3 separate regions of the Homo sapiens genome follow, and all the other regions are linked to region 1. The links come from fine-mapping of genetic effects on gene expression. A gene starts in region 1. Each other region holds a variant in brackets. All regions are shown on one strand. Distances are from middle to middle.

The links.
Region 2: its variant is fine-mapped to the expression of B3GAT2 in pancreas (GTEx, PIP 0.98).
Region 3: its variant is fine-mapped to the expression of B3GAT2 in tibial nerve (GTEx, PIP 0.93).

The regions. Positions count from the first base shown.
Region 1 is chr6:70,955,673-70,958,434 of GRCh38, forward strand. B3GAT2 (beta-1,3-glucuronyltransferase 2) reads right to left here and starts at 1,388. Exons shown (of 4, transcript NM_080742.3): 1 at 167-1,388. The coding sequence starts at 757. It overlaps LOC124901229, which reads left to right and starts at 756. Exons shown (of 2, transcript XM_047419611.1): 1 at 756-856; 2 at 960-2,762. The coding sequence starts at 756. The coding sequence ends at 1,686. RefSeq lists silencers at 1-119, 590-719 and an enhancer at 648-1,163.
Region 2 is chr6:70,857,899-70,860,660 of GRCh38, forward strand. It overlaps SMAP1 (small ArfGAP 1), which reads left to right. Exons shown (of 11, transcript NM_001044305.3): 10 at 24-331; 11 at 2,302-2,762. The coding sequence ends at 2,436. It overlaps B3GAT2 (beta-1,3-glucuronyltransferase 2), which reads right to left. Exons shown (of 4, transcript NM_080742.3): 4 at 1-2,762. Among named protein-coding and RNA genes, the nearest start is that of B3GAT2, 98 kb to the right of the region's middle. The variant T/C (reference allele first, on the strand shown) is at 1,489.
Region 3 is chr6:70,867,621-70,870,382 of GRCh38, forward strand. All of the region lies in intron 2 of B3GAT2 (beta-1,3-glucuronyltransferase 2), which reads right to left. Among named protein-coding and RNA genes, the nearest start is that of B3GAT2, 88 kb to the right of the region's middle. The variant A/G (reference allele first, on the strand shown) is at 1,699.

The DNA.
Region 1 (2,762 bases):
GCGGAGTGCCAGCAAGGAGCGGCTCCACTCGGTGCCCCGAATGCGCGCACGGAGAACTGAGAACTCAAAAGTGCACCCGGAGTGCAAGGGGCGTGTGACTGCAGCCCGGCCGGCCCGGAGGCCCACTCCCGCCCTCGCCCACCCAGCGGGGCAGGCTGGCCTTTACCTCCTGGAAGAGCTCCAGACTATAGGTGTTGTCGTCGTCAGCGAAGAAGAGCACGCCGGGCTGCGCGCGCTGGTGCTGGTGCCTCTGGCGCAGCCAGGCGAGGCCCGCGTTGCGCTGCTCAGTGGCGCGCGGCAGCCCGGGCCGCTTGTAGCGCCGCGGCGTGGGCACGTGCAGGTGAGTGCTGGGCAGCCCGGCCCGCGCCAGGAAGCGGCTCACCAGCTCGCTGCGCGCCGCCGCGTCCTCCACCAGGATCCAGTGCAGCTGCGCCACCTGGCGGAACGTGTTGGCCAGGCGGGTCAGCTCCGCTTTCTGCACCGGGCGGCTGTAGGTGGGCGTGATGGCATAGATGGTGGGCAGCTGCGGCTCCGGCTGTGGCTGCGGCCGAGACTGGTTGCGCTTTTGGGTCCCGTGAGCCGGGCCGCCCCTGCGGAGCGGGAGTCGGGCGCCCCCGCGGCCCACCGCGTAGGGAGAGAAGTAGGGGCGCGGGGTGAGCGGGGGCACTGGCCTGCGCGTGTCCACGTCGAGCATGATGATGACAATTAGGATCCAGGGCAGGAGGATAAAGAAGCGGGTGAAAAGCGCGGACTTCATGGTGCACGCTCCCTGGCCTCTCGGACACCCCAGAGAGGGGCGAGCCGAGGGACCCCAGTGCGCAGCTTGGACAGCGGCGGCGCCAGCACTTAGGGAGTGGTGATGGGTGCGCTGTCCATGGGGCCGAGGGCGCTGCAGAGACCTGGAGCCGCGGGGCTCACTACCTGGGCGTGGAGGAGCGGCAGGTTCGCGCAAGCTAGAGCGACAAGGGGTGCAGGCGGGCGGGCAGGGGCTGCCCCCGACTCCAGGTGAGCTGGCGGGAAGCGGGACTCGGTCCAGCCGCGCGCCGCCGGTCCCGGAGTTGTGCCGAGTGCGGGAAAGGCGCTGATCCCCACCGCGCTCTTTCTGAAGAGTGGAAGCCGAGAAGCGGCACCCGGTGCGCCTCGCCGCTCCAGTCCGGCGGTGCTGCGGGCACAAGGGCTCCAGCCGCGGGCCCCCAGGACGCTCTCTGGGACGCCTTCGAGGGCGGGCGGCGGCGCTGGGGGCTTTCCTTCCTCACATTCCCGCCGGGGTGGCGAGGAGCGGGTGGAGACGCTGGGGGTTGTGTCCCGGCTGTGTTCGCGCGCCGCAGCGGAAGCCTGCTCTCAGTCCCTTGCTCTTGTCTTCTCAGAACCTCTCCGGATCCAGCAGCAAGATCCCAAAGCAAGGAAAGAAAGAAAAAGCGAGGGGGCGGGGGCGCTGCAGAATCCAGCGTCCTCCCAAGTCCTCCTGTGGGAAGACAGCAGCGCTGCTACTGGTGGAGAGGGGCTGCGAGAGGGAGGCGCGGAGGGACCCCTTGGCTCTCCGCCGGGTCTGGCGCTAACGGCCCCGCGAGCAAGCTCGGGAGGCGGCCGCTGCACCGCGGGTGGAGGAGCGGGAGGAGCGTCCCCGCGGGGCTGCACGACCTCCTGGAGGGGGTGATGCTCGTTCACCTCTCTTCAGCTTTGTGAAATACCGCAAGGTCTTTGGAGATGAGCCAGGAAAATCCATTCACGTGCGGAAATTTGCCGGGCTACGCGCGTTGCTGCTGATGCCTAGGGTTCGGAGTGAAAGGAGGGGAGAAAGCGAAGGGATTCCTCCTCCTGCTCCCAGCTGCTGCGTTGATGTGCTGGGGTGTATCGAACAGCGGCAACAAAAAGCGCTTTCACTGCAAGGCAGACATCAATAGGAGCCCACGGAGATGGAGGGGTGCTGCACATAGGTGTTTGGCATGTGAGACAGTCCATAAGAAAGAATCAATTCGGAGGGCTGCTGCCTGACTGCAGTTTGATCATGGCGGGTGGGGGCGGGTGGAATTCCTAAAACTCCAGCCGAGCATGTTTAACTTATTTTTCTTCAGTAATTTGGAGTCACGGTCCCTCCCAGTTCTTCGCTGTCACCGGAATTACTCCGTTTGGCTCTCCCAAGGCTCCTGTCAAGAAGGCCTAAGAAGTAGAATGGCCTTCATTTTCAGGATAAGGAAGCTGAGGTTCAGGGTTTAAAATGATTTCTCTGAGGTCAGTGGCAAGTGGCATATGGAAATAGAACGTGGGTCTCCTGCGTGTGTCTATAGCTAGTGGCGTCCTCACTGCATGGCCTGCAGAAATCCCACCCAACACAGCCGGGCCGGTTTGGCCTTCCTACATATAAAGATGGTGCGATTGAAATCAAACAGAGTGTACCATGACGAATAGAACCATGATAGGGTCTGGAAGACCCCAAGTAAACAGTTGGCACTTAGTTTAGACACTTTTTGCTGTCTAGCTGGCCTACTAGCTGAGTGCCTGACCTTCTGTAACTTACCAGGAAGAAGGGCTGTGCTTCCCAGGCAGGTCCCAGGGAAGTGCTTGCAAAGCAGAAGGAAAGCTCCAGACTGTTCTGCCCTAGCCTATGATAAATAATTTCTGAGCCCATCTTGTCTGGGTTGTCTGCCTTTCTCGGGCTTGTTCACAAATAAATCTCTCTCCGACTGTGCGTTCTGGTGCAACTGAGAGCTCTGGGGCGAATGGCTCTCCAGCTTTTCTGACAGCTCCTCTTCTCCCAGTCC
Region 2 (2,762 bases), 98 kb before region 1:
TTCATTTTCTTTTTGTGGTGCAGGTGTATTTATGGGACCCACAAATATACCATTTACCTCACAAGCACCAGCTGCATTTCAGGGCTTTCCATCGATGGGCGTGCCTGTGCCTGCAGCTCCTGGCCTTATAGGAAATGTGATGGGACAGAGTCCAAGCATGATGGTGGGCATGCCCATGCCCAATGGGTTTATGGGAAATGCACAAACTGGTGTGATGCCACTTCCTCAGAACGTTGTTGGCCCCCAAGGAGGAATGGTGGGACAAATGGGTGCACCCCAGAGTAAGTTTGGCCTGCCGCAAGCTCAGCAGCCCCAGTGGAGCCTCTCACAGGTAGGGGTCATTTACTTTCTAGCTTCTCCCAAATCAAACCAGATTTATTTTCTAAATCTTTTTTTTTTTTTTTTTTTTTTTTTTTTAAGTCTAGTGATCTGGCAGAAAGAATTCAATAGGGATAATATGTTATAGGGTCAAAAGTATCTATAAATATTATGAAGTTGTATCAGATAGACAAATGATGTGTTATTATCGCTATTTTAGAGTATTCTGTAAAAAAAAGGTTAAACATCTTTCATTTCAAATTGTAATGTAACTGTAACGTGAACACCACTAATGGCCAGAAATTATCTCAGGCATCATGAGACTCCCTCTCTGTCACCTCTGAGATTAGCACTAAGCTTTATCCAGCTTGCTGGTGGGACATTTTTACAGTCCACTTAGACAACTTAGCTTCACTAATAATTTTAGGATCTTTTATTAGAAAATAAAAATCTAGCCTCATATTCTCAAAGCACTATTTTATGAGGGATCTAAGGCTATTTTTCAGGTCGGATGATTACTGCCCCATGGCTCTGTAAAAATTCTTTTTGTTGAGAAACCTTTGTAAAGTTGTATTTTCTTTTTACATACCCTATAATGACTTTTATGTTTAAAAAGAGTACAAAAAGATTCAATTCCCATAAGGTGTGAACCAGACATCCCCTCATATTATAAAATCCTATTTCTACCTAAGTTAGAGCTGAGATAGAACATTTCTATTTCAGGTGCTGTGTTCTGACTTTTCTCTAGCTGCACAGACAAAGGCTCTTAGAGAGGTTCATGCTCCCACTCTTCTTCCTTTTACACTTCCCATTGATGTTCCTCCAGCATTTTGGCAATCTTGGTTTCTGTTTGGTCACTTGTTTTACCTTTAGAGCATTCAGGGAATAGTCTAGAGTGATTTCTAACATTAGCACAATCACTATATATCACAGTTAATTTTGCTACCACCATTTACAAGAATATAGGTAAAACATTGGTCTCTACCCGCTGGGAATCTAAAAAATTGTATGTGCTAAGTGTCAGTCACATGGTCAACATGCTGAAGCACACCCAGCTCAGGTTAAGGTGCTAGATGAACCAGGAAGGAGTTAATACTGGCTCTTACTTCCAGATAATGCAGAAGGGTGATGCTGTTCTCCAGCACTCCATCAGTGCAATCTACTGGCCAA[T/C]GACAAGGTGGTTAAAATGTCCTTTAGTAGGTATGAAGACGTGATCTGCTTCTTCAGACACTTATGCCTGATTAGTGATGTAGTTTATGTTAGTGTCTTTGAAACTGTAAATAAGTCAAGTCAAATGTATTAAATTAAGAACACAGTCTAACTCTGAGTGTAAGTTTTAAACCCACTCACTATATGGTAAATCTTGCCTTTCCTTCTCTTATCACCAATTTTGGAAGTAAGAGAATCACAGGGTTAAGATGCTTATATATATATATATTTGACTCCAGTCTTGAAGAAAAATACATGTAATCTTATGCTTTATTGCATACAATGAAAATAAATTTTAGATGTTTATGTTGTTAGATCAGCGAGAGAAATAAATGCTTTATGACCACTTTAAAAATATTTAGGAAGTATATAAGATTTTAATAGAGAATAATATCTATCATACAAAGTTTATAGGATAATTTTAGACTATTTTACTTCCTAAAATTTTCTTACTCCTTAGTAGTTAAAGCACAATATCCTAGTGTAGGTGAAAGTTAGTTAGAGTAGCGGACTCATTAAAATCCCAAGATTGCTTTGGTATTTTTTTTTAAGTAAGTTGTGGTTAATCTTTGGGGAAACTGTATCTAGAAAGTAGATAAAGAAGGGAACAAAGTAGCTATTTGCTTTAAGAAATATTTGTATGGTACTCTGTTTTTATTCCAGTGCTTGGACTAGTTGTCACATTAATGAAAAAATGACCAACTGTGTGGCTAAAGAAACAAGAATTAAAAGTGAAGTAAGCCTCTTGAACTAAGCCTTTTATATGTTTCACAGATGAATCAGCAGATGGCTGGCATGAGTATCAGTAGTGCAACCCCTACTGCAGGTTTTGGCCAGCCCTCCAGCACAACAGCAGGATGGTCTGGAAGCTCATCAGGTCAGACTCTCAGCACACAACTGTGGAAATGAAAACTGCAATACAAGTTTCATCCAGAACTACCACCTGACATTCCTTGCTGAAACGCATCTAGTTCCCCTGTTTATTCATATGCATATTTTTTTTCTTTTTACCCATTTGTTCATATTAAGAATGATCTGATTGACCGTGTTGGTCTGTACTGATTCAATTTGATGTGGTGAAAAGCAGGTTGATAAATCATTTTATGTCAAGGGCAGCTTTGCTCATATTTCCCATGATTTCATGTACTGCATTATTTGAGAAGCTGCTCAACTTGCAAAATCAGTTTTCCTCTCAATAAAATTATAGCTCTAATGTTTGCATATAAGGGAAGTAG
Region 3 (2,762 bases), 88 kb before region 1:
AGATAATGTGAAATAGCCCTGTATCAAATAAATTAAGTTTATAATTAAAATCTTCCACACACATACACACAACCCTCCAGGACCAGAGAGCTTCACTGGTAAATTCTACCAAGCATTTAAGGAAGAAATGACAGCAATTCTACATGAATTTTTCTAGAAAATAGAAAAGGAGGAAATCTTTCTCAAGTTATCCTGTAAGACCAGCATTGCCCTGATACCAAAACCAGACAAAAACATTACAAGAAAACTACAGACTAATAATCCTCATGATCACAGAAAAATTCTCAAAATTTTAGCAAATCAAATTCAACAATAAAAAGACAATAAATCATGACCACTTGAGGATTATCTCCAGATTGCAATGTTGGTTTAAAATTTCAAAATCAATCAATGTAATTCACCATATTAGCAGACTAAAAAAAAAAATCTGACTATCACAATAGCTGGAGAAAATGCTTTGACAAAATCTAACATCTAGTCATAATGAAAAGAAGAAATAAAAGCCTCTCAGCAAACTAAGACTAGAAGTGAACTTTCTCAACTTAATAAGGACATCTACAAAAATACCTAATGCCAACATTATACTTAATTGGTGAAAGACTGAGTGTTAAATCCCTGAAGATTGGAATGAGGCAAGGATGGCTGCTCTTGACTTTTATTCAACAAAGTCCTGGAGATCCTGGCCATTTAAATAAGGCTCCCACCCCCACAAAAAAGGCAGAAATATTGGAAAGGAAGAAGTACAGCAAGCCTCCTCTTCTTCCTTCAGCCACAGTTAACAGTATCAATAGTGCTTCTCAGTTCTTCTATTGTGTAAGTATCAATTTAGCCTCACCTCCATAGGCTCATCCCACTGCCACATTCTCTCTTCTCCAACTATACATCATCTAATCTCAGCAAGGCTGTTACAAATAAGAACTAGTTCCAGTTTCTAAACGATGACTTTTGGCAACAAGACTTTTATAGTTTGGCCACAAGAAAGATACTAACAGCTTTTTCTGTGTAATAATCACTCTGGGTAGTTGTCCTAGAGTATTGGGCTCTTGACACATGTTTAGTGTTACCAATAGCTATCAGGTAATTTCAAAAGCCTCTCTTTCCCCCCCCACGTTAAACAATAAGAAAAAGAGATTTCAACTTTCATATTAAAAAGTATATACACACAGTGCAGTCATGGAACTTGCTGGAGAAAGAAAGATATGTGTGGGACCTCCTCTAATTCTGAGCCGGCCAACTCTCCTTTCATACCTCTTCCCAGCAAAGCATACACTGCCTTTTGGAATGTTGTGTGTTTCCACCTTTCCTGCCCACCACCCCTCCTTATTGAGATATAATTCACATATATTAAAACTTGTCCTTTTATATGGTATGATTAAGGGCGGTTTTAGCATATTCATAACTCTGGGAACCAATTTTTGAGAAGACTTTTTTTCCCATTGAACTGTCTTAGAACCTTTGGCAAAAATCAACTGACCATAAATGATTTATTTCTACACTGTCAGTTCTATTTCATTAATCTATATGGCTATCCTTATGTCAGTACCACACTGTATTACTGTAGTTTGCTTTCTTTAAGTTGAGACAGGGTCTTCCTATGTTGTCCAGGCTGGTCTCAAACTCCTGGGCTCGAGGGATGCTCCTGCCTCAGCCTCCTGAGTAGCTGGGACTATAAGGTGCATGTCGCTCCATCTGGTGATG[A/G]CATTATTGTAGTTTTATAAGTTTTCAAATTGGGAAGTATAAATCCCCTAACTTCTTTCTGAGTTCATCACTTTCCATATCAATTTTAGAAACAAATACCTTGTCAATTTTTACAAAAAGGGCAGCCAGAATTTTGATAAAGATTGCATTGAATCTGTAGATTAATTGGGGGAATATTGCCATTTTAGCAATATTAAGTCTTCTGACCCATAACAATATTAAGTCTTCTAATCCATGAACATATCTTTCCACTTATTTAGTTCTTCATTTCAGTGATATTTTATAGTTTCCTGTGTAAGTCATACTTTATTACTAAGCATTTTATTATTTCTGACACTATTGTGAATGAAATTTTCTTAGTTTAATTTTCAGATTGTTCATTGCTAGTGTATATAAATACAATTGATTTTCATATATTGATTTTGTATCAATGCAGTCTTGCTAAACTCATTTAATTAGCATTAACAGTTGTGTGTGTTCATCACTGGCCATCAGAGAAATGCAAATCAAAACCACAATGAGATACCATCTCACACCAGTTAGAATGGTGATCATTAAAAAGTCAGGAAACAACAGGTGCTGGAGAGGATGTGGAGAAATAGGAACACTTTTACACTGTTGGTGGGACTGTAAACTAGTAAAACCATTGTGGAAGTCAGTGTGGCGATTCCTCAGGGATCTAGAACTAGAAATACCATTTGACCCAGCCATCCCATTACTGGGTATATACCCAAAGGATTATAAATCATGCTGCTAGAAAGACACATGCACACGTATGTTTATTGCGGCACTATTCACAATAGCAAAGACTTGGAACCAACCCAAATATCCAACAACGATAGACTGGATTAAGAAAATGTGGCACATATACACCATGGAATACTATGCAGCCATCAAAAATGATGAGTTCATGTCCTTTGTAGGGACATGGATGAAGCTGGAAACCATCATTCTCAGCAAACTATCGCAAGGACAAAGAACCAAACACCGCATGTTCTCACTCATAGGTGGGAATTGAACGATGAGAACACATGGACACAGGAAGGGGAACATCACACACCAGG